Linked DNA regions of Homo sapiens: all the other regions are linked to region 2. Evidence: fine-mapped expression QTL. A gene starts in region 2. Each other region holds a variant in brackets. All regions are shown on one strand. Distances are between the middles of the regions. Region 1 overlaps TSPAN9 (tetraspanin 9). Region 2 holds the start of TSPAN9 (tetraspanin 9). Region 3 overlaps TSPAN9 (tetraspanin 9).

The links. PIP is the estimated chance that this variant, and not a neighbour inherited with it, causes the effect.
Region 1: its variant is fine-mapped to the expression of TSPAN9 in macrophages (Nedelec 2016, PIP 0.93).
Region 3: its variant is fine-mapped to the expression of TSPAN9 in testis (GTEx, PIP above 0.99).

The regions. Positions count from the first base shown.
Region 1 is chr12:3,121,509-3,131,306 of GRCh38, forward strand. All of the region lies in intron 2 of TSPAN9 (tetraspanin 9), which reads left to right. Among named protein-coding and RNA genes, the nearest start is that of TSPAN9-IT1, 23 kb to the right of the region's middle. The variant A/T (reference allele first, on the strand shown) is at 5,852.
Region 2 is chr12:3,072,357-3,082,154 of GRCh38, forward strand. TSPAN9 (tetraspanin 9) reads left to right here and starts at 5,023. Exons shown (of 9, transcript NM_006675.5): 1 at 5,023-5,097. RefSeq lists an enhancer at 1,087-1,381 and silencers at 1,163-1,312, 4,529-4,578, 4,629-5,128.
Region 3 is chr12:3,274,343-3,284,140 of GRCh38, forward strand. It overlaps TSPAN9 (tetraspanin 9), which reads left to right. Exons shown (of 9, transcript NM_006675.5): 4 at 4,079-4,270; 5 at 4,650-4,724; 6 at 6,040-6,141; 7 at 6,856-6,987; 8 at 7,392-7,475; 9 at 8,703-9,798. The coding sequence ends at 8,774. Among named protein-coding and RNA genes, the nearest start is that of LINC02827, 21 kb to the right of the region's middle. The variant T/C (reference allele first, on the strand shown) is at 4,189.

The sequences.
Region 1 (9,798 bases), 49 kb after region 2:
GCCACCATATCTGGCTAATTAAAACTTTTTTTTTTTTTTTTTTTTTTTTTGTAGAGACAAGGCCTCACTATGTTTTCCAGGCTGGTCTCAAACTCCTGAGCTCAAGTGATCCTCCTGCCTTGGCCTCCCAAAGTGCTAGGGTTATAGATATGAGCCACTGCACCTGGCTGATGTTGGCTTTTTAAAGTTGGAAGGTCTAGTTACACTGAGCCTGTGCTGCCCGGTGGCAACAATTGGCTGGATCTGGCTCTCAGGCACCACCTCCACATGGGGCTGTGCTTTCCTGACCCCTCAGTCTTGACACAGTACTGGGACTTGCCCTTGTACACAGTAACTTCATGAATTTATGTTTTCCACCTTGTAGGTACTTGAGTTTGCAAACCTTGACTGAAGGCTGTGATGTTATACTGTATCAGTCACACAGCTACTGTTAGGGACAGTGTTCCAGCTTGAGTCTGTCTGACTTTAAACTGTGAACCATCCTGCTGTTTTTCTGAGTTCTCCCCTCCCCTCCCCTCGTTTTTTGTCTTAAAAAGAGATAGAGTTGGCCGGGCGCGTGGCTCACGCCTGTAATCCCAGCACTTTGGGAGGCCGAGGCAGGCAGATCACGAGGTCAGGAGATCGAGACCATCCTAGCTAACACAGTGAAACCCCATTTCTACTAAAAATACAAAAATTAGCCGGGTGTGGTGGTGGGTGCCTGTAGTCCTAGCTACTCAGGAGGCTGAGGCAGGAGAATGGCGTGAACCCGGGAGGTGGAGCTTGCAGTGAGCCTGCACTCCAGCCTGGGCGACAGAGTGAGACTCTATCTCAAAAAAAAAAAGGAGATAGAGTCTTGCTCTGTCACCCAGGCTGGTGTGCAGTAGCACAATCATAGCTCACTGCAGCGTTGATCGGCTGAGTAGCTAGGACTTCAGGCACACACCACCATGCTTGGCAAATTAAAATTTTTTTTGTTTGTATGTTGTCCAGGCTGGTCTCAAACTGGTCTCCTTCTGTCTTGGCCTCCTAAAGTGCTGGGATTACAGGTGTGAGATACCACACCTGGCCCTGAGTTATTTCTAAATCCTAGCAGGGATTTTGAATCTTTTGTCTGAGCCTAGGAGACCATAGATAAGGAAGTTGGCAAGAACCCCTCTTAACAGAGAGGTTTGAGTCCCCGCATCTGTCTGAATGTGCTCCTGCAGGGAGGTGGCGTCCACTTTTGGATGTTGCTCATGTTTTAGTCCAGAGAAAAACTGTCCTCTTGCTACACAGTATGTCCTTTCTGAATTAATTAAATGTCATTGTTTTTTCTCTACCACTTGTTTTCCTACACCTTGGTTTCTATTTACTGGCAGGTTGAAAGCAGGTGACCCCGCCTCCTTGCCCCTAGGAGGGCTGCCAAAATGCCAAACAGAGAGCTTGCGTTTTGCCCCAGGCACTTGGAGGCAGGAAACAGGGATGTCTGTTTGGACAGTGGATGCTTCAGGGTTGGTCAGGGGTCCCTGGGGGAGAGGCAGGCAGGATGCTAGGCCTCCCAAACAGGGAGGCGGCCCCACAGGGAGCCCTGGTGGAGCTTGAGGCTTCCTGCATTTAGTGTTGGTCTGTCCAGCTGTTTCCTCCTGATAGAGTGGCTGGACAATGCCACAGTGACTCAACTCCAGCCCCGTCGACGAACAACAGGAGATTTGTCCAGGGTTAGCTCGGGAGTGGCGTCTGCATCCCTCACCTGCATCCAAGCTGCTAGTTGGGAGGAACCTGTTGCTCCTTGAACCGCTTCCCTGCTTACTCTTGGTGCCCTAGAGCCCTGTCCCAGTTGGATTGATTCAGGCTGTTTCTTTTTGATTTCCCTGTAGCTTGTCCTTAACCCTTCTTTGTGCACAGCTGACCTAGAGCTTCTGTGGCTCTGTGCTGACCAGCTGCCCGCCTGCCGTCCCAAGCCTGGCATTGCCAGACCTCCCTTGCCCTTGGCCTGAGGCTCAGTGGGTTTGGCACAGTCCCCGAAGGTTCTGAGTCTCTCTCCAGGCATTCAGGGCCTGGGCGAGCTTCAGATGAGAGAGACAGCTGTATGATTCATTAATCTCCTCCAGTGTGTGGAGGATTAAACAATTTTTTGGTGGGTTTATTATTATGTATTTTTTTTTTTTGGGAAAAATTATTACTTATTGAGTATTTTCTAAGGCTCCTGTCATGGTTACTAAGAGCTTTGCATGCATTACCTACCTTAATCCTTGCAGGCACTCTCTGGGAGAGGGATGGTTACTCCCATTTTACAGATGAGTCTGAAGTCCAAGAGGCTAGGGAGCTTGCCCAAGGTCTCAGATCCTTCCCACTTCGTATCCTGTGACACATGAGTTAGGGAGGGATGAGGATGTGCGGAAGAGTTTAAAAAATAGTTTGAGAACTGTTGATGAAGGATGAGAGGTTTAAAAGGAGCTGTGCAGGGAGGAGGCAGAGGTGAGCCGGGCTTGGTCCTTGCACTCCTGGAGTGCGGGAAGCAGGCAGGCCACCAGCTGCCTCTGATGTAAGATACAATGTGGTTGGTGCTAGCAGTGGAGCTGCCAGGGTAGTTTGGAAGCACATTTTCAGCTGGTATATGAGCAACTAGTAGAAGACACTTCAAAACAGAAGTGAGAAATTCCTGGCGCACAGAACGGATTTATCTGTCAGCATGACTTAAACTGTCCATGTAGAAAATACTGAGATATAGTCCCATTTATGTCTAGAGTTGCAAAAATGCAACATTGCTTAGAATTATTTTTAGTGCAATTATTTGGAAGTTTATATCAAAGGCCTTAGAAACATTCATTCATAATTCTGTTCTTTGGAGTTTATACCAAAGTAGTTATATTTTTTCATTGCAGCACTATTTATAGTAGCTAAAAATTGGAAGCATACTGAATGTCTAACAATAGAAAATTAGTTATATAAATTTTGATACATTCTTTTTTTTTTTTGGATGGAGTTTTGCTCTTGTTGCCCAGGCTGGAGTGCAATGGCTTGATCTCGTGGGTTCAAGCAATTCTCCTGCCTCAGCCTCCTGAGTAGCTGGGATTACAGGCATGCACAACCAACACGCGTGGCTAATTTTGGATTTTTAGTAGAGACAGGGTTTCTCTATGTTGATCAGGCTTATCTTGAACTCCCAACCTCAGGTGATCCGCCTGCCTCGACCTCCCAAAGTGCTGGGATTACAGGTGTGAGCCACCGCGCCCAGCCTGATGGACCACTGTGTGGGCTTTTAAAAATTATGTCTTCAAGAATTATATATAATGACTCAAAATAGGCCAGGTGTGGTGGCTCACATCTGTAATCCCAGCATTTTGGGAGGCTGAGGCAGGAGGATCGCTTGAGCCCAGGAGTTCGAGACCAGCCTAGGCAACATAGTGAGACCCCTGTCTCTACAAAAAAATTTTTAATAAATTAGTCAGGTATAGGGGTGTGCCTCTGTGGTTCCAGCTACTCAGGAGGCTGAGGTGGGAGGATTACTCAAGCCTGGGAGGTGGAGGCTGCAGTGAGCTATGATCATGCCATTGTGCTTTAGCCTGGGTGACAGAGTGAGACCCTGTCTCTGAAAAAACAAAACAAAATAACATTAATGAAAAAATGTCAAGCAAATATTGTAAGATATAACACTACAAATCCTAATTTTTTTTAAAAAAGAAGAAAGGTTAGAGGAAATACACCAAAAATGCTAATGGTAGTTCGTGATTATTAGTGATTTTTTTTTTTTTATGTTATGTACTTGCTAACATTTCTCTAGTGAACCACAACAACAAAAACATCAGAAGTGCTTTGGTGTCTCAGAGGATTGCAGAGTGTTTTGCTGCGTGCTCAGCACAGCACCTTTCATTGCAAAACAGGCTCCAGCACTTTCCAGAACAGGGCTTTAAGTGTACTTGGGAGATGAGGCCTCTGCATTGGAGTTCCTTCTTCCTCTCCTCTAACACATTCTTCCCCCCGCAGTTTTCTCCCTTAATTGGATGTAAATTTACAACTAAATAATTATTTTTAAAAAATAGGTACTGTTCTTATTGGCTGTTTTTCCGAATACTCTGATGAGAGAGACATTTCATATTTTTCACTCTATAAGAAGACCCTAATTTAAGGTTCTTTCTTCTCATGGAATTTAATTGATTTTTTTTCTCTGTGGTTCAGATGATGTTTGTCAGATAGAAGAATTTGCGACTCCTGCCTTAAATGGCCTTTGAAAGCCCAATGTAAAATAGTGCCTTGTTGTTGTGGCCTGCTGGGTGACACCAGGGCAGCCTGGTGTCACCACAGAGGAATGGTTCTGTGGCTGACAATACGTTTGAAACTGACCCTCAAGTGAGCCCAGAGAACACTTGTGATCATAGCCCAAGAACAGCCTTTTTGTTTGTGTTTCATGGATTATGAACGAGGACTCAGCACATCGCCTGGCATTTGAGGGCTCAAAACCTGTTGTTTGGATGAATGCTGGCCTTTGTGGCAATATTCCCTCCCAACAATAGAGACTTCTGTTGCGTTTGTTGTGTTCAAGTGTCTAGTGAAAATGCTCTCCTATAGTGGTTGAGAAAGTAAGTTTTGGATGAGAGATTCAGATCCTGGCTCACTAGTGTAGTGACTGTGAACACTTCTCTTAACCTTTTGCAGCTTCACTTTCCTCCTCTGTCAAATGCATAAGACCTCACAGGGATGTTGTGAGGGTTAAGGGAGAGTACTTACAAAATGCTTAATAAGGGATCGATAACTATACAGTCACGTGTTGCTTCACGACTGGGCTGTGTTCTGGGAAATGCACTGTTAGGTGATTTTGTTGTTGCGTGAACATCAGAGTGCACTTACACAAACCTGGATGGTATGGCCTACGGCACACCTAGGCTCTAGGGAAGAGCCTTTTGCTCCTAGGCTACAAACTTGTACAGCATGCTTCTGTGCTGAATACTGTAGGCAATTCTAACACAAGAGTGTTTGTGTGTCTATACGCTGGAGCTGCCAGAGTGATTTGGATATGTGTACCTTTACCGCACCTTTTCTATGTGTACACTAAAAATACAGTATAAAAGATTTAAAGTGGTACCCCTGTATTAGGCTGTTCTTGCACTGCTATAAAGAAATACCTGAGACTGGGTAATTTATAAGGACAGAGATTTGGGCCAGGCCTGGGGGCTCACACCTGTAATCCCAACACTTTGGGAGGCGGAGGCAGGAGGATCCCTTGAGCCCAGGAAATTGAGACTAGCCTGGGCAACATAGTGAGACCCTGTCTCTACAAAAACTACCTGTAGCCCTAACTACTTGGGAGGCTGAAGTGGGAGGATTGCTTGAGTGTAGGAGGTGGAGGAGGCTGCAATGAGCTGGGATTGCACCACTGCACTCCAGCTTGGGCACCTGAGTGAGACCCTGTCTCAAACAAACAAACAAAACAACAACAAAAAAGATTTAATTGACTCATGGTTCTGCAGGTGATACAGGAAGCAAAAAAAATTCATGGAGTCTCGCTGTGTTGCCCAGGCTGGACTCGAATTCCTGGATCAAGTGATCCTTCTACCTTTGCCTCCCAAGTAGCTGGGACTACAGGCTTGGTAGCATGTCCAACTTGTGCTAGACTACACTAAATTTATAAATTTATATAAATATTTTTCTGGCCAGGTGTGGAGGCTCACGACTATAATCCCAGCACTTTGGGAGGCTGAGGCAGGAGGATCACTTGAGCCCAGGAGTTGGAGACCAGCCTGGGCAACATAGTGAGACCTCTACATCTTGTCCCGCTGGAAGGTCTTCAGGGGCAATACATAACGGAGCTGTCGTCTCCTGTGACAACAGTGCCTTCTGGATACCTTGTAAAGGACCTGCTTGAGGCCGTTTTACTTAACTTTAAAGAAAA[A/T]TTTTTTTTTTTTTGAGACGGAGTCTTGCACTCTTGCCCAGGCTGGAGTGCAGGGGCGCAATCTCGGCTCACTGCAAGCTCCGTCTCCTGGGTTCACGCCATTCTCCTGCCTCAGCCTCCCGAGCAGCTGGGACTACAGGCGCCTGCCACGATGCCCGGCTAATTTTTTGTATTTTTAGTAGAGATGGGGTTTCACCGTGTTAGCCAGGGTGGTCTTGATCTCCTGACCTTGTGATCCACCTGCCTCGGCCTCCCAAAGTGCTGGGATTACAGGTGTGAGCCACCGCACCCAGCCACTTTAAAGAAAATTAATTAAAGGCATATACTCTAAAATAATGGTAAAAGTATAGTATAGCAAATACATAAACCAGTAACATAGTTGTTTATTATTCTTAAGTATTATGTACTGTCCATAATTGTATGTGCTGTGGTAGACATATTTTTAAAAAATTCATGGGGTCTTGCTATGTTGCCCAGGTTAGACTCGAACTCCTGGGCTCAAGTGATCCTTCCACCTCCACCTTCGTATTAGCTGGGACTACAGGCTTGGTGGCATGCCCACCTTGTGGTAGACATTTTTACACGACTGGCAGTGCAGTGGGCTTGTTTACATCAGCATCACCACACACACGTCAAGACTGTGTGTTGTTGGATTACGACACCTATGATGTCACTGGGCGGTAGGAATTTTTCAGCTCCGTTGTAATCTTAGGGGACCACTGTCGTATGTGTGGTCCGTCATTGGCTGAAGCATTGTTATGTGGTGCATGATGGTACTACCGATATTACAATATTGTTATTTTTGGCAGAGAGGTTTTTCCCATTCTTGTCTCTGTTCTCAAGTTGTTTGGGGTGGCAGACTGAGCCAGGGATGTGGTTCAGTGTCCATTATCTCATAGATCCAGGGCCCTGACCACTTTTTCTCCAGCTCCACCTGTAGGATGCCCTCCTTTTGGGCCTGCAAACACAAAATGGCTAATCTCACTGACTTTCTTGGATATTCAAGCTCAGTGGGAAATGAACTTTCAAAACACAGAAGGCGTGATTTCAGAGTGTCTTCAAGGGGGCCTTACACACAAAAGGAGGCTGGGCGTGGTGGTGCAGCTGTAGTCCCAGCTACCCAGGAAGCCAAGGCAGGAGGATTGCTTGAGCCCAGAAGTTCAAGACCAGCCTGGGCAACATAGTGAGACCCTGTCTCAACCCCTGCCCCAACAAAAGCCCCACGAAAGGCTGAATTACCCATAGCCCCCCAAGAAATACCTTCCTGGCTTTATGGTGAGTCAGGCACCCCTGCACTCTGCACGAGGCTGCCTGGGTAACCACTCTGTTCCTCACTAAAAGGAAAGACTAAACACTTTGAGATTCAGCACCTCATCACATCACCATCATTATATTTTGGAATTTTTTATTGTGAAATATACGCAACATAAAATTGACCATTTCAACCATTTTTAACTGACATTAAGTACATATACATTATTGTGCAATCATCACACTATCTCTTTTCACAACTTTTTCATCATCCCACACTGACACTGTGCACCCATTAGATGATAACTTCCCATTCTCCCCCTACTTCCAGCCCCTGGTTATCATCATCCATTTTCTGGCTATGAATTGGATTATTCCAGGTACCTCATGTAAGTGGAATCATGCAATATTGAACCTTTCGTGACTGGCTTACTTCACTTAGCATTGTACCCTCAAGGTTCATCCATGCTGTAGCCTGTGTCAGATTTCCTCCCTTTTTATGGCTGAGTAATATTCCATTGTGTGTATATGCCACATTTTTTTGCCCTTTTACCCAGTGATGGACATTTGGGTGTTTCTACCTTTTGGCTATTGTGCAGCATCGTATTTTAAAATCGAGTGCCCACTCTTCTCCTCTCCAGTCACTCCAGTGGCTCCCCACTGCCTGCACACCCACCCACAGGACTTTGCACAACCGAAATGGATGCACGTGTTAGTAATGTGACATGTGTTTTCCGAGGTAGTTTTTCTATGCATTGGATCCGTCTATCCATCCCCTTTATGAAGCTGTAAATGCTCAAAGGTTAGGAGCTAAGATTAATAGTTCCTTCTACTACCTCCTGAGAGTCTGTTTCAGGAAGTGGTAAAGGATGTTGGTTAGGAGTGTGGGTTGTGAGGTCAGACCACATGGGTTTGCATCCTAATTCCACCACACACAAGCTCGTCATCACATGTATCCCTTAACTCTTTGGCACTCAATTTGTCCACTTATGAAATGGTGATGTTGGTGGTAACTACCTTGTAGGGCTGTTAAGAACATTAAATGAGATAATCCATGTATAGGACTTGGCCTAGTGTCTGATACATTGTAAGCCCTTGAATGTTAGCTTAAGCAAAAATTAAGAGCTCAGCTTCCTTTCAGCATTTGCCTTTTTCATCTTCATAATTCCCTTGCTGGGCAGCTCAAGGGTAGGATGAACGGTTCCTGCCGTGTGGAGTGGCGTCCCTGGGGCCAGCTGTCCCTCGGGGAAGCAGTGACGGGAGCCTGGCAGAGGTAGAACCCTGTTTATTGTTCATCCCTGACCAACCCCTCCATGCCCTCTGTGCATTCAGATATCAGGTGTACTTGGAGGTGCCCAGGCCCCTGGGTCTTCTTTGATCCCTCCCTGCATCCTCTTTCTTGCGTGGATCACCGATGTGTGGGACAAACTTGGCAACTTGGGAAGGTCTCTGGGCGGCTGTACCGCCTCTTTGGCCCTCTCCAGGATAGTGCTGTTGGGGTGGCCAGAGGGTCGCTTCCCTTCTACTTCCGCTTCCCCCGGTGGCCAGCCCTGCCCCACCAGCCTGGGAAACCTGATTCCTCCTGCCCTCAGTGCCAGCGCACTGGCAGGATCTGGCTGGGCATTTGGCAGCCGCTTGAAGCAGCCTGCGGTTTCGCCCTAAAGCTGATCGAGCTGGTGAAAACGGAAGTTCCCCATTTTTCCCCCTCTATTTAACAACATTTCCCCAAATGTTTACTTGATCCTCTCATGTTTTCTTGTTCGCGTCAGCTACTAGCTTTCCGCTTGCTGGCCACAGCAAGGCAGGGAGAGGTTTGCTGCTGCTTGGGGCTGATTTTCTGCTCTGGAAAGGCATCTCCAGGTGTGACGGACAGCAGAGGGTGGGAGCTGGGCAGATGGTGTCTGGAGGCAACACCCCAAAGTCAGGTGACTGCATCCAGGTGATAGGGCTTCTCGGGACTGGCCTGGGGCAGGGTGGCAGAGTGGGCCCTTCCTAACTGCGTGACCTCGGGCAAGCTCCTGAACCTCTTTCGGCTTCTGCTGCCTCACCAGTGAGATGGGGATAATAATAGTACCGGCCCACAGAGATGTGCAGAGTCAGTGAGATAACCTACACAAAACGCTTAGCAGAGTGTCTGGCACACACGGCCGTGCTCTAAAAATGTGAGTTACTTCTATTTTTACCGGCAAACTTTATTTTTGCTGTTTTCCAGCCTTCTGTTTCTTTGCACATTTTCTTTTTTTGTGGCGACCTTGATTCCTTTAGGATCCCAGTGCTCTTGGATCACTCCCTTCTTGCTTCTAGCAAAGCCCACTCTCGGGAAGGGGTCTTACGTTGTAGCCGCATCGGATTTCAAGGGCAGAACCTTCAAGGTCGTTGGGGCCAGTGCCCGTGTGGTATTTGTTTTTGCTGAGCGGCTCTTTGCTGTGCTGCATCTCCTCGCCTCCTTTGACGGGGTACACACGCTCTACCTGCTGAGACAGTCTCCTCCATCTTTGTCATTTTCTCCACTTTTGGGGAAAAAAAAAAAGAAACCGGATGTTTATGGAGCCCTTTACGTGCCAGGAGCTGCTGGGCACAGTCATCTCATTTCATTGTCCCAGCCGGCCTTCGAGGTTGGTGGTGTTAATTGCAGTTTTTACCCAGGCACCGCGTGGTTGAGTAAATAGCCAGAGGTCACATGCAAGCAAGCGACA
Region 2 (9,798 bases):
TTTTTGTATTTTTAGCAGAGACACGGTTTCACCATGTTGGTCAGGCTAGTCTCAAACTCCTGACCTCAGGTGATCCGCCCACCTCGGCCTCCTAAAGTGCTGAGATTACAGGTATGAGCCATCGTGCCCAGGCGACTTTTTTTTTTTTTTTTGACAGAGTCTCGCTCTGTCGCCCAGGCTGGAGGGCAGTGGCATGATCTTGGCCCACTGCAACCCCCCGCTCCCGGGTTCAAGCGATTCTCCTGCCTCAGCCTCCCAAGTAGCTGGGATTACAGGCGCCCGCCACCACGGCCAGCTAATTTTTGTAATTTTAGTAGAGACAGGGTTTCACCACGTTGGCCAGGCTAATCTGGAACTCCTGACCTCAGGTGAGCCACCCGCCTCGGCCTTCCAAAGTGCTGGGATTACAGGCGTGAGCCACCACGCCAGGCCCAGGCGATTTTTATAGATGTGGAAACTACTATTCTGTACTGGTAGACATGAGAGTGGAACTCTTTTTTTTTAGACGAAGTCTCGTCCTGTTGCCCAGGCTGGAGTGCAGTGGCACGATCTTGGCTCACTGCAACCTCCGCCTCCCAGGTTCAAGTGATTCTCCTGTCTCAGCCTCCCGAGTAGCTGGGATTACAGGCCCGGCTAATTTTTGTATTTTTAGTGGAGACGGGGTTTCACCATGTTGGCCAGGCTGGTCTCAAACTCCTAACCTCAGGGGATTCACCCACCTCAGCCTCCCGAAGTGCTGGGATTATAGGCATAAGCCACTGCGCCTGGCCGAGAGTGGAACTCTTCATACATTCTACCTCTCACTCTACCCTCAGGTCATCTCCATGTCAGAGGGGTGGTGGAAGTCTCTTCAGGTGGAAGATTCCTCCGAAGTAACTTTGTGCATTACACTCTGGATGGAGCAGTAGTTAACTGTGCAGGCCCTCCAGCCAGACAACCTGGGGTTATATCCTAGCTTAGTCAATTGCTGGTGAAATGACCTTGGAGAAATTACTTAACCTGTCTCAGCCTCAGTTTCCTCATCTGTAAAAATGTCGGGATGGTGATGCTACTACCTACCTCATGGTGTTGTTGTGAGGATCAGTGGGTTAGAACATGTAAAGTACTTAGAACTGTGCCTGGCACATAAACAGTACATGTTAGCTGTTAGCTGCTTTGCAAGTCACTTGAAACCTATGGCCGAATGTGAAGTGTTGGCGGAACCCCGCTCCGGCAGCGTGCACTTTCGCCACTAGGTGTCGCAATTCAGCAGGCACAGTCCTGAAGCTTGACTTGGGGTGGTTGGCTGGGACTTTAATTTTAGCCTATTGTCATTTTTGATTTGATTTGGTGATTTCAAGGGGATAAACTGACATGCTATCCTTTGAAGTCCCTGGGGATCCAGAAATTCCAGCAGAGTTGCTGACATCCAGGCCTGGAAGGAGCTGTTTGGAGTCCTGCCTTTGTTCACAGTTAAAATGGCATATAATTTATCATCCACGCCAGGATATTTCGAGAGTGAAAGGGGACTTAGGAACTATGCCAGGACAAGAGGAGTAAGTAGGATGTGCCCCCGAAACCTGGATACAGTCACCCTACCTATATCTAACCTCAGCATTTTTCAGAATCTCCTCCAGAAGGGAAATGCAATGACATTTCCTCAGAAGCCTGGTATGATAAGCAGTGACTTCATGCGTTTGTAAGTCCCTTCCCCAAGAGGGTGGTGCGTCATTGTCAGGTTTACTTGCGTTTAGTCCTCAGTGGACACTATCAGTGTGTCTGCTTCACAGACCACTAGTCACCTTTGTGTCCTTTATGCTGAATAATCCCATCTCCTCTACAGCTTTTCTTCAGAGCTTCCTTCCAACTGTCAGCCCCTCAGAGGCACTGAGGCATTCACCTCTGAATGTGGTGAAGGAGAGTGAGCAGTGAAGCCATTTTCTGGGCTATTGCTGAGGGATTTCTTCTAAGATTTCATCTATCTCTAAGACTTCAGAATTCCATTATTTCAGATTTGCTCTAATTAATTAATTAATTTGAGACAGAGTCTCACTCTGTCACCCAGGCTGGAGAGCAGTGGTATAATCATGGTTCACTGCAGCCTTGACCTCCTGGGCTCAAGCAATCCTCTCACCTCAGCCTCCCGTACAGGCATGTGCCACCACGCCCATGCACACCTGGCTAATTTTTGTATTTTTAGTAGAGATGGGGTTTTGCCATGTTGGCCAGGCTGGTCTCGAACTCCTGGGCTTGAGTGATCCACCTGCCTTGGCCTCCCAAAGTGCTGGGATGACAGGTGTGAGCCACTGTGCTCCGCCTATCTTTTTTTAAAGGGCAGGAGGACTTTGGGAGGCCAAGGTGGGAGGATTGCTTGAGGCCAGGAGTTCAAAACTAGCTTGAGCAACATAGTGAGGCCTCTGTCTCTACAAAACAAAACGAAAACGAAAACAAAAACAAAAACAAAACAAACAAAAACCCCAATTAGCTGGGTATGGTGGCATGCACGTGTGGTCCCAGCTACTTAGGAGTCTGAGGTTGGAGGATCCTTGAGTCCAGGAGTTGGAGGCTGCAGTGAGCCATGATGGCACCACTGCCCTCCAGCCTGGGTGGCAGAACAAGTCCCTGTCTCAAAAACAACAAAACAAAACAAAAACCAAAAAGGGCAGGAGGAAGCTAGCATTTGTAGAGCAGTCACCACACATCACATGTTGTGCTTTTACTCCATCATCTTGGTCAGCCCATCAACCCTGTGGAATTGGTTTTTTTTTTTTTTTTTTTTTGAGACAGTCTCGCTCTGTCGACCAGGCTGGAGTGCAGTGGCACGATCTTGGCTCACTGCAACCTCCGTCTCCCAGGCTCAAGCAATTCTCCTGCCTCAGCCCTCCGAGTAGCTGGGATTACAGGCATGTGCCACCACACCCGGCTAATTTTTGTATTTTTAGTGGAGACGGGGTTTCACCATGTTGGCCAGGCTGGTCTCAAACTCCTGATCTCAGGTAATCCACCCGCCTCGGCCTCCCTAAGTACTGGGATTACAGGTGTGAGCCACCATGCCCATCCCCATAATTGGTATTCTTATGCCCCATTCCACAGGTGAGAAAACAGGCCTGAAGAGGTCCCAGCCGATAAAAGCAGAGCCAGGATTCAGACAGGTGTGTCTGGCTCCCAAGCCCTGCGGCTACTCCCTCACCAGGCTGCGTCCAATGGTCTGCCAGTGAGTTGGCTTGCTGGCAGACAATCCTAGTATATCTCTTTCCCTGTCTGAGACCCAGTTTCCTTTTCTGGGTACATGTACCCAACTCTGCCGCAGTGACTGGAGAGATTGGGGCTGGTGGGGGTTCCTTGGGAAGACTTTGTTATAGGGGCATTGAACAGGGCTTTGGATGAAGCAAAATGTAGAAGGAGAATATTTTCCTTGTGGGGAAAGGGAGATCAGAAGGAAATGGGTTATGGGTTTAGTCTAATAGACAAAAACAAGGTTGCATGTGTGTGACGGAAAGGGGCCCAGAAGATGAGTGGAAACTTCCAGTCTAATTAGCAGAAAGCAAAAGTGACCCTAGTGATTATAGCCAGGTTTTAAAAACTTGTCCCCAGTCAAGCTTAGTGCAATGGTAGGGCACGTGGGAAGCACAGCATACAGTTTCTTTAAAATTTAAAAAAATTTCACTTTTAAAGACAGGGTCTCCCTCTACTGCCCAGGCTGGAGTACAGTGGCATGATCCTAGTTTACTGCAGCCTCCAACGCCTGAGCCTCAGCCTCCGGAGCAGCTGGGACTACAGGGGTGTGCCACCACACCCGGTTAATTAAAACATTTTTTTTTTGAGATGGGGTTTCCCTATGTTGCCCAGGCTGTTCTTGAATTCCTGAGTTCCTGAGCTCAAGCAATCCTTCCACCTGGGCCCCCCAAAGTCCTGGGATTACACGCGTGAGCCACCACACCTGGCCTAGAAGACATTTTTGATGACAGTAATGATGAGAAGAGATGGCGTTTTAGTGCTCTTTGGAAACAAGTTTAGGCCTTCTAGCTTTAAGAATCCGGGCCTATAATCCCAGCACTTTGGGAGGCAGAGGCAGGAGGATGGCTTGAGCCCGGGAGTTTGAGACCAGCTTGGGCCCAGGGAGACCACCGTCTGTACAAAAAAAATCAAAAACTTCGCCGGACGTGGTGGTGCGCGCCTACAGTCCCAACTACTCTGGAGGCTGAGGCGGGATCACTTGAGCCCGGGAAGTCGAGGCTGCAGTGAGCCGTGATCGCACCACTGCACTCCTGCCTGGGCAACAGAGTGAGTCCTTGTCTCAAGAAAAAACAAAACAAAACAAAAAGCAAAAAACACATAAAATCCAGGCCTGAAAAAGCGCCCGGGCCAGACATGCCTAGCTGGAGTTTCTCCTGCCTTAGCGCACCCCTCAGGCACACGGTGCCCTGTAGTCGCCCTTGGAGGCCGCCAGCTCCTGGGGAGGCATGGCCCTTTCTGCGGGAGGTGTCTCAGGCAGGCTCCAACACACACCCGCGCTGTCAGCATCTCGCACAGTCCGCCCGAAACACCAGGGAAGGGGTTCGTAGGTGTGGGGGTGGGGTGGCGAGGCCAGGCAGCCTGGCGCGAGGGAGAGAGCCGAGGCCTGGGCCAGGAAGGCCCTTGGGTGCCGTGTGGGCGCAGAGCCCAGGAGAGCGCACTGCCAGGCCCGGACCTCCCCGCCCCTACCCCGGGAAGAGGCCCGTTCGCCGCAGGGGGAAGGCGGGATCATAGCACCTCGGAGGAGCGGCCGGTCCGGGCATGCGGGCGGCGGGGCGGGGAGGGAGGCTTCCGGAACCCCGAGAGAGCACCCGTGCCTCGCGGGCCCCGTGCCCCGTCCCCGGGCTCCCCTTCCTCTAACGCAGGGGACCCAGCCCGGGGCAGTGCCGGGCACTGGCGCTGGCGCCCCGCTCAGCCCTGCGATCCTTCTCCGCCCCGCCCCTCCCCGCTCCGCCCCGCCCCTCCCCGCTCCGCCCCCGGGCCGCCCCGCCCCGCAGGCTCGCCATTCCCGGGCAGGCCCCGCCCCCTGTTTCCGCTGGCGGCGGCGGCGGCGGCGGTGCCGGAGCGCGAGCAGAGCGGAGACCCCCAGGTCCTGCGGGCGCGGTGAGTGCGGCCCGGGCGGCGGGCGGCGAGGCGGGTCTCGAGAGCGTGCGGAGTCGCGCGGCCTTGAGCCGGCGCCGGGCGGGCTGGGCACCCCCAGGCCGAGACCCGAGAAGGGGGAGCGGCCGGGGGCGCCCACGGGAGGCAGTGTGGGCAGGGCGGCGGTGGGACGAGAGGACGAGGAACAGAGTAGGCGCCGTGCGGGAAGCGGGCCGGGAAGGGGAGGGTGGGTGCGGGGCCCGGGCACCGAGCGAAGTGGGGTCCTCCAGGGGATGGCTCCGAGGAAGACCGTTTCAGAAAGGGAGTAACCCGGGGCCGGCAAGGGTTTCCGACTGTGTGACCCCGTGCACCGCTTGGGACAGTCCATACAAGGACCCCAGAGAGGGCCAGGGGGCCTTCGGGCAGGGCTGGGATATGGCCTGCAGCCCCCCGGCACCCGCGACCGCTCCCTGGGCCACTGCTGGAAGATCAGCACTCCGAGTGACAGGACTCTGGCACATCCCGAAGTTGGAGATCTAGCCCATCTGTGCATTCAAGTTTGGGACTTCAAAAAACTTTCTTGTGGTTTTTAAAAAAAGATCCAAACAAGAAACCGGCTTGTTGTTGTAAGAGCAATATTTGTACTTGTACATCTTGGAACTGGAGTCTTGGATCTCCTCCCTCTTTGAAAAATATACGAGTCACTGCTTCATCTTCCCCCAAATGCCTGTTTTGTCTGGGGAAGCTTGGGCTAGTATGGGATCCCCTGAGCTACCTTTTTCTCGCATCACCAAAACGGGGGGTAAGAAGGCAGGGGCTTACCTGCCTTACCTGGTAACTCTTAGTTCAGAGACCCAGTCTCTCATTATGTGCGCGTGCCCTTCTGACCTGCAGCTGTCCTTTTCCCTGGGGTGACTCAGGTATTTCCTCCTCCAGGAAGCTTTCCTGGACTAGTGGAGAAAACTGAAGACTCATGCGAGGATCCCTATATATACCTGCCAGCTCCCTTCTCTTTACTGAAAATAGCCACAGAGAATGTTGAATATATGCTTTGCTATAGAGATACGCAGCCAGCTTGCCATCATAAGTAATGGGGAGGGGAGGAGAGGGATTATGGATAATTTCAAACAATAGCCTGGACAAATCATTTATATTTAGCTAAGGAATGCAGCCAGAGAGGCAGACAATTACACCGGCTTCCTACCCTCGGCTTGGTCCTGGCATGGCTGATGCAGCTGGGCTGTGGGTTGGAGGGAGAGGATTGGGGTAGATAAAACTTGAAGTGTAATTCAGTTCTACTCTCACTCACTGAAGACGCCCTGTGTGCAAGTCCCTGAACAGGTGAGAGTAGGATTTTTTTTTTTTTGGTCTGGTTTAATCAGATTTTAATATTCTGGCAGAGCTTTTTAAACCTATGAACAGATATTTAATATTAATAACAATAACTAGTGTTGATAAAGTAATTTATAGTTGGCCAAGTTTTTTCTATGCACGTTACATTAGCTGTATATAATTTTATTTAATTCATACGTAATCTTGTGAAATTTGTTACTTTTTTTTTTTTTTTTGAGACAGAGTCTCACTCTGTTGCCCAGGCTGGAGTGCAGTGGCAGGATCTCAGCTCACTGCAACCCCCGCGTCCCAGGTTCAAGCCATTCTCCTGCCTCAGCCTCCCGAGTAGCTGGGATTACAGGCGCGTGCCGCCACGCCTTCTAATTTTTGTATTTTTAGTAGAGATGAGGTTTTGCCATGTTGACCAGGCTGGTCTTGAACTCCTGACCTCAAGTGATCCACCTGCCTTGGCCTCCCACAGTGCTGGGATTATAGGCGTGAGCCACCGCATTGGCTGAAGTTTGTTACTTTTAATTGCCTTCTTATAGGTTAAGAAAATGATACTCAGAGAGAATAAGTATCTTATCTAAGGTCACAACACTCATTAAGTGAAAGAAGCAAAACTTGAACCCTGGCTTCTGACCTTCCTGCCTTGTGCCATCTATTCTGCCATCTGCCTCTCTGCCCTTCTTCTATTTTATTTATTTATTTTTTTCTGAGACAGACTTTTGCTTTTGTTGCCCAGGCTGGAGTGCGATGGCACTATCTCGGCTCACTGCAACCTCTGCCTACTGGGTTCAAGTGATTCTCCTGCCTCAACCTCCCAAGTAACTGGGATTACAGGTGCCCGCCACCACACCTGGCTAATTTTTGTATTTTTAGTAGAGATGGAGTTTCGCCATGTTGGCCAGACTGGTCTCAAACTCCTGACCTCAGGTGATCCGCCTGCCTTGGCCTCCCAAAGTGCTGGGATTACAGGCATGAACCACCGTACTTAGCCCCTTCTTCTATTTTTTTTTTTTTTTTTTAGAGACAGGGTCTTGCTTTGTTGCCTGGGCTGGAGCACAGGGACACAAGCAGCTCACTGCAGCCTCCAACTCCTGGGCTCAAGTGATCCTCCCACCTTAGCCTCCCGAGTAGCTGGGACTATAGGTACAGGCCCCATGCTCAGATAATTAAAAAAATTTTTTTTTTTTTTTTGGTAGAGACAGGGTTGTGCTATGTTGCCCAGGCTGGTCTCTGGTCTTGAACTCCTGGCCTCAAGCAATTCTCCTACCTTGGCCTCCCAAAGTGTTGGGATTACAGGCGTGAGCCACCACGCCCAGCCCCTTTCCTCTATGTTGAGCCTTGTCTTCACCTGGCACCACCTATTTGTGCAACCTTGGGCAATTTACCTCCTCTTTCCAACTCTCTGTTTTGGTGGTATATTGGATTAGAAATATTCTAGAGTCTCTTCCAGCATCAGATAATTAACAGTGTAAGATATTGGCAGCCACTCAATCAATTAGGAAGTGTGCTTTATATAAAAAATTCTAAAATTGTGGTTAAAAAAACACTGAATGTAAAATCTTTTTTTTGTTGTTGTTGTTTTTGAGATGGAGTCTCACTCTGTCGCCCAGGCTGGAGTGCAGTGGCATAATCACAGCTCACTGCAACCTCCGCCTCCCGGGTTCAAGCAATTCTCTGCCTCAGCCTCCCCAGTAGCTGGGACTACAGGCGCCCGCCATCACCCTCGGCTAAATTTTGTATTTTTTTTAGTAGAGACGGGGTTTCACCATGTTGGCCAGGCTGGTCTTGAACTCCTGACCTCATGATCCACCCTCCTCGGCCCCAAAAAGTGCTGGGATTACAAGCATGAGCCACCGCGCCTGGCAAATGTAAAATCTTAAGTGTACATTTTAACCATTCTTAAATGTACAGTTCAGTAGCATTAAGTCTATTTACATTGTTGTGCGACAGCTCCAGAAATTACCTTGTAAAACTGAAGCTTTAATATTCTTGAAACAACTGTTTCCCCCTCCTCCCAGCCTCTGGCAGCCACTATTCTGTCTGTTTAGTGTGCTTTATTAAGCTCCTGCTGTGTGCTTAGTAAATGCTGACCTTGAGGAATTAATCGGGAGAGTTGTGGAGAAGCAGCCCAGCTTAGGTGGGAAGCCCTTGAACCTGGGGTGGCTGGAGGGAGTGCCCCCTTTTCGCAGGCCTGTAACCCCAGGGCCAGCCAGCACTGTTAAGTGAATGAGTGAGTGGGTTGGGACTTGGGCGGATGCCTTCACCTCCTTTAGTCTCAGCTCCTTGCTTGCAAAATGAGGATAACAATACCAAGTACTCAGGGTGTTGGGAAGGAGCCATGAGCTGATGTATGTGAGGCACGTAGCTCAGGGCCTCATATACAGCAGGTGTGCAGTAAACGGTGGCTGTTATTTATAACCTCGTGGAGGAGACTGGACTAAGATGCTTGGAACAAGAGAGGACAAGACTTCTTTTCTCTGCCGTGAGGGCCCAGCCTGCAGTGGTTGTCATCCTCACTGACTAAGAGGGAGTGGATCTAATCCCGGTGCATTCGCCTGGCATTCAGCATCCTGCCTGTCTAGCCTTATCGCCACTCTCCTCCCTCCTGGAACCCTTGGTTCTAGCCAGACTTATCTCCCAAGCATGCTTTGCGCGTTCCTTCTTGGCCCCTTAGTTCATCCTCTTCCACCTTCCTGGTTGGTTCTTCCATCCCTCTCCTCTTTCAAGACCTTTCTCATGTCTGAGCTCCTCTCAAGACCCTGGCATCCCATCCCAAATGAACCTCTTTTTCCTGGGAACCCCGGTGGCATTTTCTGTCTTCATTTTGCTCCTGGCCTTTATATACTTCCTTGGGTGGTTCTCTAGTGAACTCCACAAACAGTGTATGTGTCACATGTATAAGAGTCTGTGCTGGGCTGGATGCGGTGCCTCACATCTGTAATCCCAGTATTTTGGGAAGCTGATGTGGGAGGATCACTTGAGCCCAGGGATTTGAGACCACCCTGGGCAACATAGTGAGGCCTCTGTATCTAAAAAATTGTGTGTGTGTGTGTGTGTGTGTGTGTCTGTGTGTGTATATATATGCCAGGTGTGGTGGTACACACCTGTGGACCTATGGTCCCAGCTGGAGGTGGAAGGATCGCTTGAGTTCAGGAGTTCGAGGCTTCAGTGAGCCATGATTGTGTCACTGCACTCCAGGCTGAGTAACAGAGCGAGAATTCTGTCTCTTAAAAAAAAAAGTCTGTGCTAAGTTCTGATGCTGCAAAAATAAAAAAGATAAACGTCCTTATCTTCATGGGGCTTATAAGCCAGTAAAGAGTTGAGAAATGGGCTCGAAAGATGACAGTTCAAAGGACAAGGCGAATGGCTTCTGAGAGCAGAATG
Region 3 (9,798 bases), 200 kb after region 2:
TTTAAAGGAAATTGGGCCTCCGAGAGCTAAAGAATCTTAAGGTCACACTAGGGAGCAGCATGATGAGAGGCATTTTAGGAAAAGAATCAGGCAGCTCTATGCAGGCTGGGCTGGAAACTAGAGGCCAGGGGCAGGGAGGGCAGTGGGGGCCGTGATCTGGACATGGGACCTGTGGCGAAGGCCCAGTGTTGGTGCCTGTCACCTGTCAGTCGGAGGTCCCCTGGGAGCAGGTAGTGAAGGCTTCTGCACCAAATGCCAGAAACCAAGGTTTTGTCCCAGCCCAGCAGTGTGACTGGGGACTTCCTTGTCCCCCCGCTTAGCTTCCTGGAAAATCGAGGCGTGACCTTTGTGTTTTCTTCTTGCCGGGAGGCTCTGTTAGTGTTGGGCCATCAGAAGATGGGAGCAGAGAGCTCATCTCGGCAGGAGCCCCTTGAGGATGGGAGCGTGGCAGTGGGGATGTGCGTGGCACCCGCTGTACTGCACAGGCCTCCTCACTGGGCAGACGTGCACCATGCGTGGAGTTGTGCCAGGCGGGAGCTGTGATGGAGGCAGGAACAGGTTTGAGGGCTTGGAGAGGAAGCCTTCCAGTCCAGACTGCGCCCCCGTAGGGTAGGCCGCAGATCTTTCCTGGGGGCCTGGAGGACTTTGGACAGGAAATGGGAAAGGAAGCAGATTTGGGGACAGGGCACCAGCTGTGTTCCCTGAGAGGTAGAAGGCTCCCAGGTGGGTCTGGCAAGACCAAATCAAAGGATGTGGAGTGTGAAGTCAGAGAACCAGTTTGAAGAGAGGTGACCAGGTCCTGGAGTTTCTGACCTAAGAGGTTTTCCTAGGTAGAGGTACCTGAGCATCCCAGCACTTATCCCAGGAGGGAAGTGGAGAGAGGGCTCGGAAGGGGCCCCCCGCTGCAGGTACACCCACAGTGGGAAACCGCTTCAGGAGAAGGCTGTGCTTTGAGAACTTTTCCAGGCCCGAGAAGGGTCCGGGCTCTGAGCTCTGGGGTCCTGCGTGTCTCCAGCTGCAGCGTGTGGGGGCGCCCTGCAGCTCCCCTGCAGCGAGTACCTGCGGCAGTGGGGTTTCCGCTTACTCATTCCAGGGTCTGGCTTTTAGAGCCATAAATCTTCAGCATGAAGATCATAAATTCTCCATGGTATGATTAATGAAAGAAAAATTGAGACGGCAGCATAGAAACTGACCAGATTGAAGAAAAGTCAGAGTGACTATTTGGATGAAAGTTTCAGCCATCGCTGGCGAACCCAGAGCTTCTGAACCAGCCTGGAGCGCCACCTAGTGGCCGTAGGCGGGGCTAGCCCCGTTCCCTGGCGAAGCTTTGTGATGGCCCAGTTGGGCGATGCTGTGGGTCTCAGTGTGCCCATTCTTTGGGAGCCCTGACGTGGTTCCATGTGGGGCTGCGCCAGGGGACAGGAGGCACAGGCCCACTCTCCACAGTGTGAAGGACCCAGGCAGCTGCTGGACGTAAATCATTCGGACCCCCCTGCAGCTCCTTGCACTGTCTCTTGGTTAGTAATACGTGGCGGTGTCTGTTCCTACCTTTTTCTTCATGCACACCTTTCTGGTTCCCCATTTATCAAAATCCTATTCATTCTTCAAAGCCCAGCAAGGCCTGTCAATGCCACCTTCAAAACATCTCAAATTGGACCATTTCTCACCGCTCCTCCGTAGCCTCCTGGTATGAGTCGTCCCCAGCTCTCAAGCTGGTCTGGCTCCTGGGAAGAAAGAGAGGCTCGCAATTAGGCAGGGTAGGGATGCCCACGGGAAGGTGAGGGGAGGGGACAGACGCCTCCCTGAGGAAGGGCATCTCCTTCTTATTCCTCCACAAACCCAAGCCTAATCACAGCAGCCTCCCAGTTGCTCTCCTGGCCTCCCTCGGGCCCTCCCGCGGTCGCTTCTCCAAACAGCAGCCAGAGTGATCTGCTGAAAACCTCAGTGAGATCATGTCACTCTCCAGCTCTGGGACCTTCCCGTCACACTGAGGACACTTGCACGTTTCCTTTACCTGCGAGGTCCCAGCTGGCCTGGCCCCCGGCCACCCCGCCTGCTTTGTCTCCTACCATGTGTCACCTCACTCACTGTTGTAGCACACGGCCAGCGTGCTCCTCCTTGGCTGGCCAGGCTCCTTCCCACTCCGGGGCTTTTGCACCTGCTGTTCTCTCTGTCTGGAACGTTCTTCCCCCAGATAGTTATGTTGCTCCCTCCCCCTGTTTATTTGGGTTTTTGCTTAAACACCACCTCTTCCAAGACACCTTCGCTGCCCACACCCTCCCCAGTTATTTTCTGGCTCTTTACATTGCCTTATTTTTCTTCGTGGCGCATGTCAGCAACTGCAGTTACGTCATTTGTTGCTTACATAAGGTCAGTGTCTCCTGTAAGAATCTACTCTTCGTGAAGGCAGGGTCTTTGCCAGTGAGGTGTACCACTGTCTCCCCAGCTTGGAGAACAGGGCCTGGCACTGAATACGCAGGTGTTCACTTGGGTTTGTGGAGGAATAAGCGAAGGAGATGCCCTTCCTCAGGGAGGCGTCTGTCCCCTCCCCTCACCTTCCCATGGGCATCCCTACCCTGCCTAATTGCGGGTTGCCCTGTCTCAGCCCTGAGCCTCTGTTTCTTCCCAGGAACCAGAGCAGCTTGAGAGCAGGGGCTGGGCTGATTCCTGGAGTCAGCATAGTCTGCACAGGCCCTGGCACAGAACAGCTGCCCGGGAAGTGCCTTTCCAGCAAGCAGTGCCCGGAGCTGGCCACCCACTTCACGTAGCTTATTCCAATCTAATTCTCACAGCAGTCCAATAGGAAGGGGATGATATTCTCACTCTGCATACGAGAGGTTTGCAAGCTCACACCACCAGGATAAGCTGGAGCCGGGAGTCCTGTTTGGGTCTGTGACTCCCAAGCCCTTACCACCTGCACTTTCACCCGGCATAGAATGTTCTCGTCCTCCATCTGCCCCTAGTCCACCCACCCTTTAGGGACTGCCTCCTTCAACTGGCTTCCATGACTGCGACAGTGATTGCCTCCTCTGAGCGCCCGTAGCGTTGACTGGGCACCAGTCCATCCCACCTGGGAGTGGTAGATTTTGCACTTTGATTGCTCCCATCCAGCCAGAACAGAGGCCCCTGGAAAACAGGTCTTTAAAGTGGTTGTAGCTTTTCTGGCATGGCACACTGCATGCTGTAGGCACTCAGTAAATACTGTTTCACTGATTGATTGGCTCCTCAGACTCAGCACACTTCCCATGAGCTGGCGGAGGGAGTCGGGGAGTGCCAGCTATATCGAGCATAAAATAAGACAGATGTGGAGATTTGCAGCCGGTGAAATGGAAGCTTCCCCAGGTGGAGCTGGTGGCGCCGGCAGCCCCAGGGGTGCTGTTGGGGAGAGTTGCTTTTCGGTTTGGGGGCCGATCATGCCAGAGGCCAGCTTATTGGATGGGTGGTGAAGGCAGCCGTGGACTCCCACGTCCCGCACACTGGCCAGGCCCCCAGCCAGCCGATGACTGCCTCCTTTCTCCATCTGTGGGAAATTGTTCTTCAGACTCCAGTGGACAAATGGCCCTTCGGGTCAGAGTAACAGGACACAGTCGCTGGAAGTTCTGGCTCCAAGAAACCCGACTCCGAGGGTCCCTTCCCACCTCCAGAGATGAAGTCTTTCTTGCTTTTCCTGACCCCAGTTCTCCCCTCTCACCAGGCCTCCGTCTTGGACACTGGGGCCTCTTCTCTATCATGCAGAGTAACCTAACCACTCACATGTGTCCAGTACCTTCCACGTATTTGTTACGCACTTTTGCCTCTGTGTGGTTTAATCCATCCTCAGAATGACCTGGGAGGCTCTTGAAACTGGCACAGTCTCCGTTGTCACATGGGGAGACTGAGGCACAGAGAGGCTAGGGGACTGTCTGGGTCACACAGCCGACATGCTTCGGGTCTGCAGCCCAACGGTAGTCCCGTTCTCACCTTGTCGGTTCTCACTTTGTCTGTGTCTCAGAGCATGGGGTGGGGACCTGCACTGTTCCCAGGTCCATGGACGAATGTGAGAGCAGCGCCAGGCTAATGGGCTTTCCTTCCTTTCCAGCTCTGTGGCTGTGGGCTGCTGGGAGTGGGCATCTGGCTCTCCGTGTCCCAAGGCAACTTTGCCACCTTCTCCCCCAGCTTCCCTTCGTTGTCTGCAGCCAACCTGGTCAT[T/C]GCCATAGGCACCATTGTCATGGTGACGGGCTTCCTCGGCTGCCTGGGGGCCATCAAGGAAAACAAGTGCCTCCTCCTCAGCGTAAGTTCTGTCCAAATCCCCAGCCCCTCCAACTCCTGATCTCCTTGCACTTGGACCCCTGGGACAGGCAAGACCTGGAATATTAGCCACCTGGGTGTCCAACCTGAGCCCAGGGAAACTGCTTCTAGAACGTTCTAGGCTTGACCACACCCCTCCTCCTCATGGTTGGTTATGCCTACCCCTGGTTGTCCCTCCCACTCCCTGATTAGTCAGCTCCTTTATGTCTCTGTCCTAGCTATCTGGGTTTCCTCAGGAGGAGCTGGCTTCTCCCAGACCTGGGAAGCCCCACCTAGGCGCCGCCTGTCCCTGCCTTCCACACCCTCCTTGTCCTCAGCCCTGCCCATTACCACCTACCCATGCCTGGCCCTTTCCTTTCCAGTTTTTCATCGTCCTGTTGGTCATCCTCCTAGCAGAGCTGATCTTACTCATCCTCTTCTTTGTCTACATGGACAAGGTAAGCCTTACCAGATGGGAGGGGGCATATGGAATGTCACTGCCCTTAGAGTTGGGCCAAGCAGGCCAGGGTCCCTTCCCTGGCCAGAGGAAGAGTGCTGGCAAGCAGCACCTGTGCAGAAAGGAACATGGAACCAAGGGTTGGGAAAGCTACCAAGGAAAGAGCAGATGGAAGGTTTTGATGGGGGCAGCATGGGGCAGGCAAATTTGGAGGATGGGAGAGTTGACTTTGTATAGTTCCAGGAAGTGGAATCCTCTGCATGACCAGAGATGGCAGTGGGCTGCCTCTGGCGCTAGTGAGCTCCCTCTCACTGGAAGGAATTAAGCTACTTGGAGAAGGGATTCAGACCTCATCAGGTGGTTGGGCTGGGTGATTTGAGAGCAAACCATGAAAAACAAGGAGGAACTCTCTGGGCGACGCTGGCTGAGCAGGACTGAGGCACAGGGAAGCTCTGTTTCCTGCACTAGAGCCCTTGAGGACGGGCGCTGCTCCTGGGTTCAGGAGGATGGTGGGTGACCCCCTGTAACCTCGCCAGGCTGGGCAGTTCGCAGTCAAGAGCGAGGTTGGCCGGGATTTCAGTCTCTTGGGGCGTGGCAGGCCCTTTGGTACCATGCACTCCAGAACTGTGTAAGGAGCAGTTCTTGAAATAGCTGCCTGAGCCACACTGAAAGTTAGAGACATCGTTAGGATGAGAAAGAATAATCTTTTAGTTTTGCACTCGTGAAAAGGAAGAAAGAACAATGTTGAGAGATTTCTCTGTGCCAGCCCTGTTCTTGGCCCTTTTATGAGAATTGTTTCCCTTAATTCTAACAACAGCGCCATGAGTAGATGCTGCTGTTCAACATCGGGTAGAACAGCGGTGAGGGAGGTGAAGGTCACATGACCTGTCTTCCTCCCTCTAGTTCCCAGGGTGTGTTTTGAGAGGGGCAGTCTGTGGGGAAGCTGTGTAGTGGGGGGCGGGGGTGGCAGAGTGGCCTGTGTGTGTGGCTGGTCCTGGGATGGGGGAGTGGAGGCACGTGGTGTGTTTTTTTGCCTCTGGGTGTTACAGCCCTGGCCCTGAGTTTAGCTCTGCCGGGAGGCGGTGGGTGCACCAGGGCCTGCTGTATTCTGAAACTGGGAGTGTGTGCCTAACCCCGCACCTCTGTTGGGCCAGCAGAGGCCCCCACCCCAGTGGGCAGGGCCTTCCAGACCAGCTGCCTTCCCTGCCTTCCTCACTCCTCATCTGTCACCCACCATCCTGGGTGACCTGAGGTGGGCTGGAGAGACGAGCTGCGTCCTGGTTCCAACCGTCTCACTGTGTCCCTCCGCCTGGCAGGTGAACGAGAACGCCAAGAAGGACCTGAAGGAAGGCCTGCTGCTGTACCACACCGAGAACAACGTGGGGCTGAAGAACGCCTGGAACATCATCCAGGCTGAGGTGCGGGCTGGGCCGCCCTGGTGGGGCCAGGCAGGGAGGAGGGGTGGCGGCCGGTACTTCTAGCTGCCTTCCCCGGTGACCTGGCCGGGCACCTGTGCTTTCTGGATTTTAGCCGGGAGTGGAGTGGTACCCACGGGGGCATTTGCCTGAACTGCTGAGTCAGATGTGATACAGCAAGGTACAGCCAGGGAGGGATGAGGATACAGGAGGGGCAGGCCTGAGAGAGCTGTGGCTGAGCTTTGGGATGAATGACTGAATTTATTTTAGCAACAGATTTGCCTCCATGATGGGGCTTGGCTTAGGTGAGGAGGCCCTGGCTCTAGGAGGAGAACAAGTCCATAGTCCCAGATGCTCCCATTTTAAGCCCTGGGGAGGGGCCGGCAGGGGGTTGGGTGGCAGTCAGCTTGGGACGGTTTACAGAAAGAGCAGAGGTGCTGGTGGGCAAGCACAGGGCTGAGCCAAGGGGCCCAGCCCGAGGGGTGGGCTGCATTGCCCTCTCCCGCTCTGGTCTCCAGGAAGGAGTGCTCACTCACTTCTCCAGTGGGCCCGGCTGAAGCCCAAAGAAGGGACAAGAAGCAAGCCCTTTGTCTCCTCCCTTAACTGCAGGGTGGCCACTTTTGCGGGGACTGGGGTTGGCCTGGGCAGGGGAAGGCCCTGGGGAGGAAGGGGCGGGCCATGGCATGTCTGACTGCCCCTTCCATTCCTGCTGGCCAGATGCGATGCTGTGGTGTCACTGACTACACAGACTGGTACCCAGTGCTGGGGGAGAACACGGTTCCCGACCGCTGCTGCATGGAGAACTCCCAGGGCTGCGGGCGCAACGCCACCACGCCTTTGTGGAGAACGGTGAGGCTGGGGATGGACCGCTTGGGTCCAAGAGCCCGTGTGTGGATGCCCCGGCACGGGGAGCCCTATAGGGGAGGCTGGGCCCGGGACACTAAGAGGTTGGCTGAATGTGGCGGTGGGGGGCTCACAAAAATAAAGCCAAAAGACAGGTGGAAAATGGGGGGTGGGGCTGGACCCACAGTTGGGAGAGTCAGAGGGCGAGGGGTTGAATGGGGTCTGAGGCTCTGCAGCTGGCCTTGCGGGTGGGGCGGAGGCTGCGCCAAGGGATGGGGACAGGGCTGAGGCCAGGGAGGGCTGGGAGGTAAGAGCGAGGACGAGGTGGAAGGAGAGAGTGAGCTGGGGGCTGGGCTGCAGGGAGCGCATGCTTGGGCTGGGACCCTAACCTCGTGGGCCTCGCTCCCCAGGGCTGCTATGAAAAGGTGAAGATGTGGTTCGATGACAATAAGCACGTGCTGGGCACGGTGGGGATGTGCATCCTCATCATGCAGGTAAGAGGGGCGTCCCCAGCAGCCTCACCCACCCTGCTGGCCTCAGCCTCAGAGGGAAGGAAGCACAGAGAAGTGAAAGCAGTGTTGGTACACGGCGGAGGGTCTGGAATTCATCACAGCTATTCAAGCTTAGCAGCTGTGCCTGCCACCGTTTCCGCAGAGCTCTGATATGAGAGCACGTGTCTACTCAGCACTGAGAGTGGTGCTCAGGGCTGCCTGTGGCCAGGCCCAGGCTGGGATATTGAAGCTGGAGTCAACCCCCGTGGGTTCCCCCAGTTCTGCCCAAACCTTGAGCTCAGAGAGCCATGCAAGACACACACGGTGTCCCCCGGTCACCATCTTTACAGCCTGTGCACATGGCACACTCTCTGTGGTGACCGTGAGACCACACCGGGCTTCCTTCTGCCTCCTGCACTCCTCTGGGTCCCCGGCTCCTTTGAGGATTCAGGAGGGAAGGGGCACAAACGAGTAGTGACGTGGTCCTGAGCACACATCACTGGAAAGACAGCCCTGCTGCTGCCAAGACATCGCACCATGTGTTCCACAAGCAGACAAGAGAGGCTTGACAGGAGTCCTTTATTTTTCTTTTTTTAAGAGACAGGGTCTCACTTTGTTGCTCAGGCTGGAGTGCGGTGGCGCCGTCATAGCTCGCTGCAGCCACAAACTCCTGGGCTCAAGCCATCGTCCCACTTCAGCCTCTCAAGTAGCTGGGACTACAGGCATATACACCACCATACCTGAATGATTTACAACTTTTTTCCAAAAACAGATGGAGTCTCCCTCTATTGCCCAGGCCGATCTCAAGCCATCCTCCCACCTTGGCCTCCTAAAGTGCCACCGTGCCCGGCTGGCCTGAGTCCTGAATGATCCCTGCCACCTCCCACTCCCCACCTTGGCTCCTGTGAGCCCCCACGTAGAGCCAGGTCCTCCGTGCATTCCGTGCCTGCAGCGCCCCTCTGAGTAGGCACACGTATGCATCCTGCAGAGGTTCGATGGCTTCTGGTCTAACAGCCCCACGAGGCTGAGCCAGAGTTCACCTGTGTGTGTCTCCAGGGTGACCTCTGTTCACGGTTTTCTTCATGTCTTCATTCCATAAGCATTTTCCTGGCACACCAGTGGCCATCCCCGCTTGCTCTAGGTGCCCTGTGACATCCCAAGCCTCTCGGGGCTGAGGTCAGGTCCAGGCTGCTGCAGCTCCTGCCTCAGGCCCCTCCCCGTGTCTTTCAGATCCTGGGCATGGCCTTCTCCATGACCCTCTTCCAGCACATCCACCGGACTGGTAAGAAGTACGACGCATGAGCGGGCTGGCCGGGAGTGCCCACCCCGCCCTGCTGCCCTGTGGAGGGAAGAGGATTGAGCTTTGTGTCACCTGCCTGCGCTCTCCAGATATGACCCCTGCACCCACCCCCCACAGCCTGCCCTACCCCACCTACCCTGCCTCAGCCTCGGACTTCTCAGTGGGTGGAGTGCCAGGGAGGAGGAGGCACACGGAGACCTGGGGCTCGGGGCCCCTGGATTCCTGCATCTGCATATGCGTATTTGCCAAAGACGACAGGGTGGGCTGGGGTGCGCTCCGGAGGAACCCCCGGCACTGATGGGCTTCTGCCCCTGCCCTTCCTCACACTGACACTTTGTCCCCACATGGGGTGGGGAGCAGAGTGCCCGCCCCGTGGAGATACCGCCCCAGCGGGGGCTGCGACATCCATGGCCACCATGGGGCACCTGGCGGGGCGGGGGTCTGCCGGCCTCTGGGCAAGGCCCCTGGAGCATCTCGCCCAGGCTTTTTATACCTTACAATGTAACTTTTTTATTTTATTTTACTCTATGATTATTCAGGAATATTATCTCTCAGATAAGTTTAGGGTTAGATTTCTGATTTGTAACTTTTTACTGTGTTGATTTCTTTAATGGTTTGACTTTTTTTCCCTGAGGGTGAGGGATGGGTGGGAAGAGAGGACATCTGTCCAGTCTCAATCAGGACAGACCACCGTGCGACACCCAGGAGGCTCTCGGATGGGGCGCGCCTGCGCCCTCAGAACGTGTGGGAAGGAGGGGGCGTGGACAGGACACGGGACCTTGCCAGGCCTGGTGTCTGAGGACAGGAGCCTGGGAGAGGCGGGTGGAGCGTGAAGCAGGCTGGAGGTGCCCCTGCACGGGAGGTGGCGTTTGCTAACCAATCGAGCTGGAAATGCCAGGGCAGGGGGGCCCCACGGTGCTGTGGCAGAGCTAGAGGGGTCCTTAGACTTTTCACTGATGAGCAGTTGTTGGTTTTTTCTTTCTCCCTTCCTCCCGCTCTCTGCTGGCACGCGAGGCTTCCCCTTCC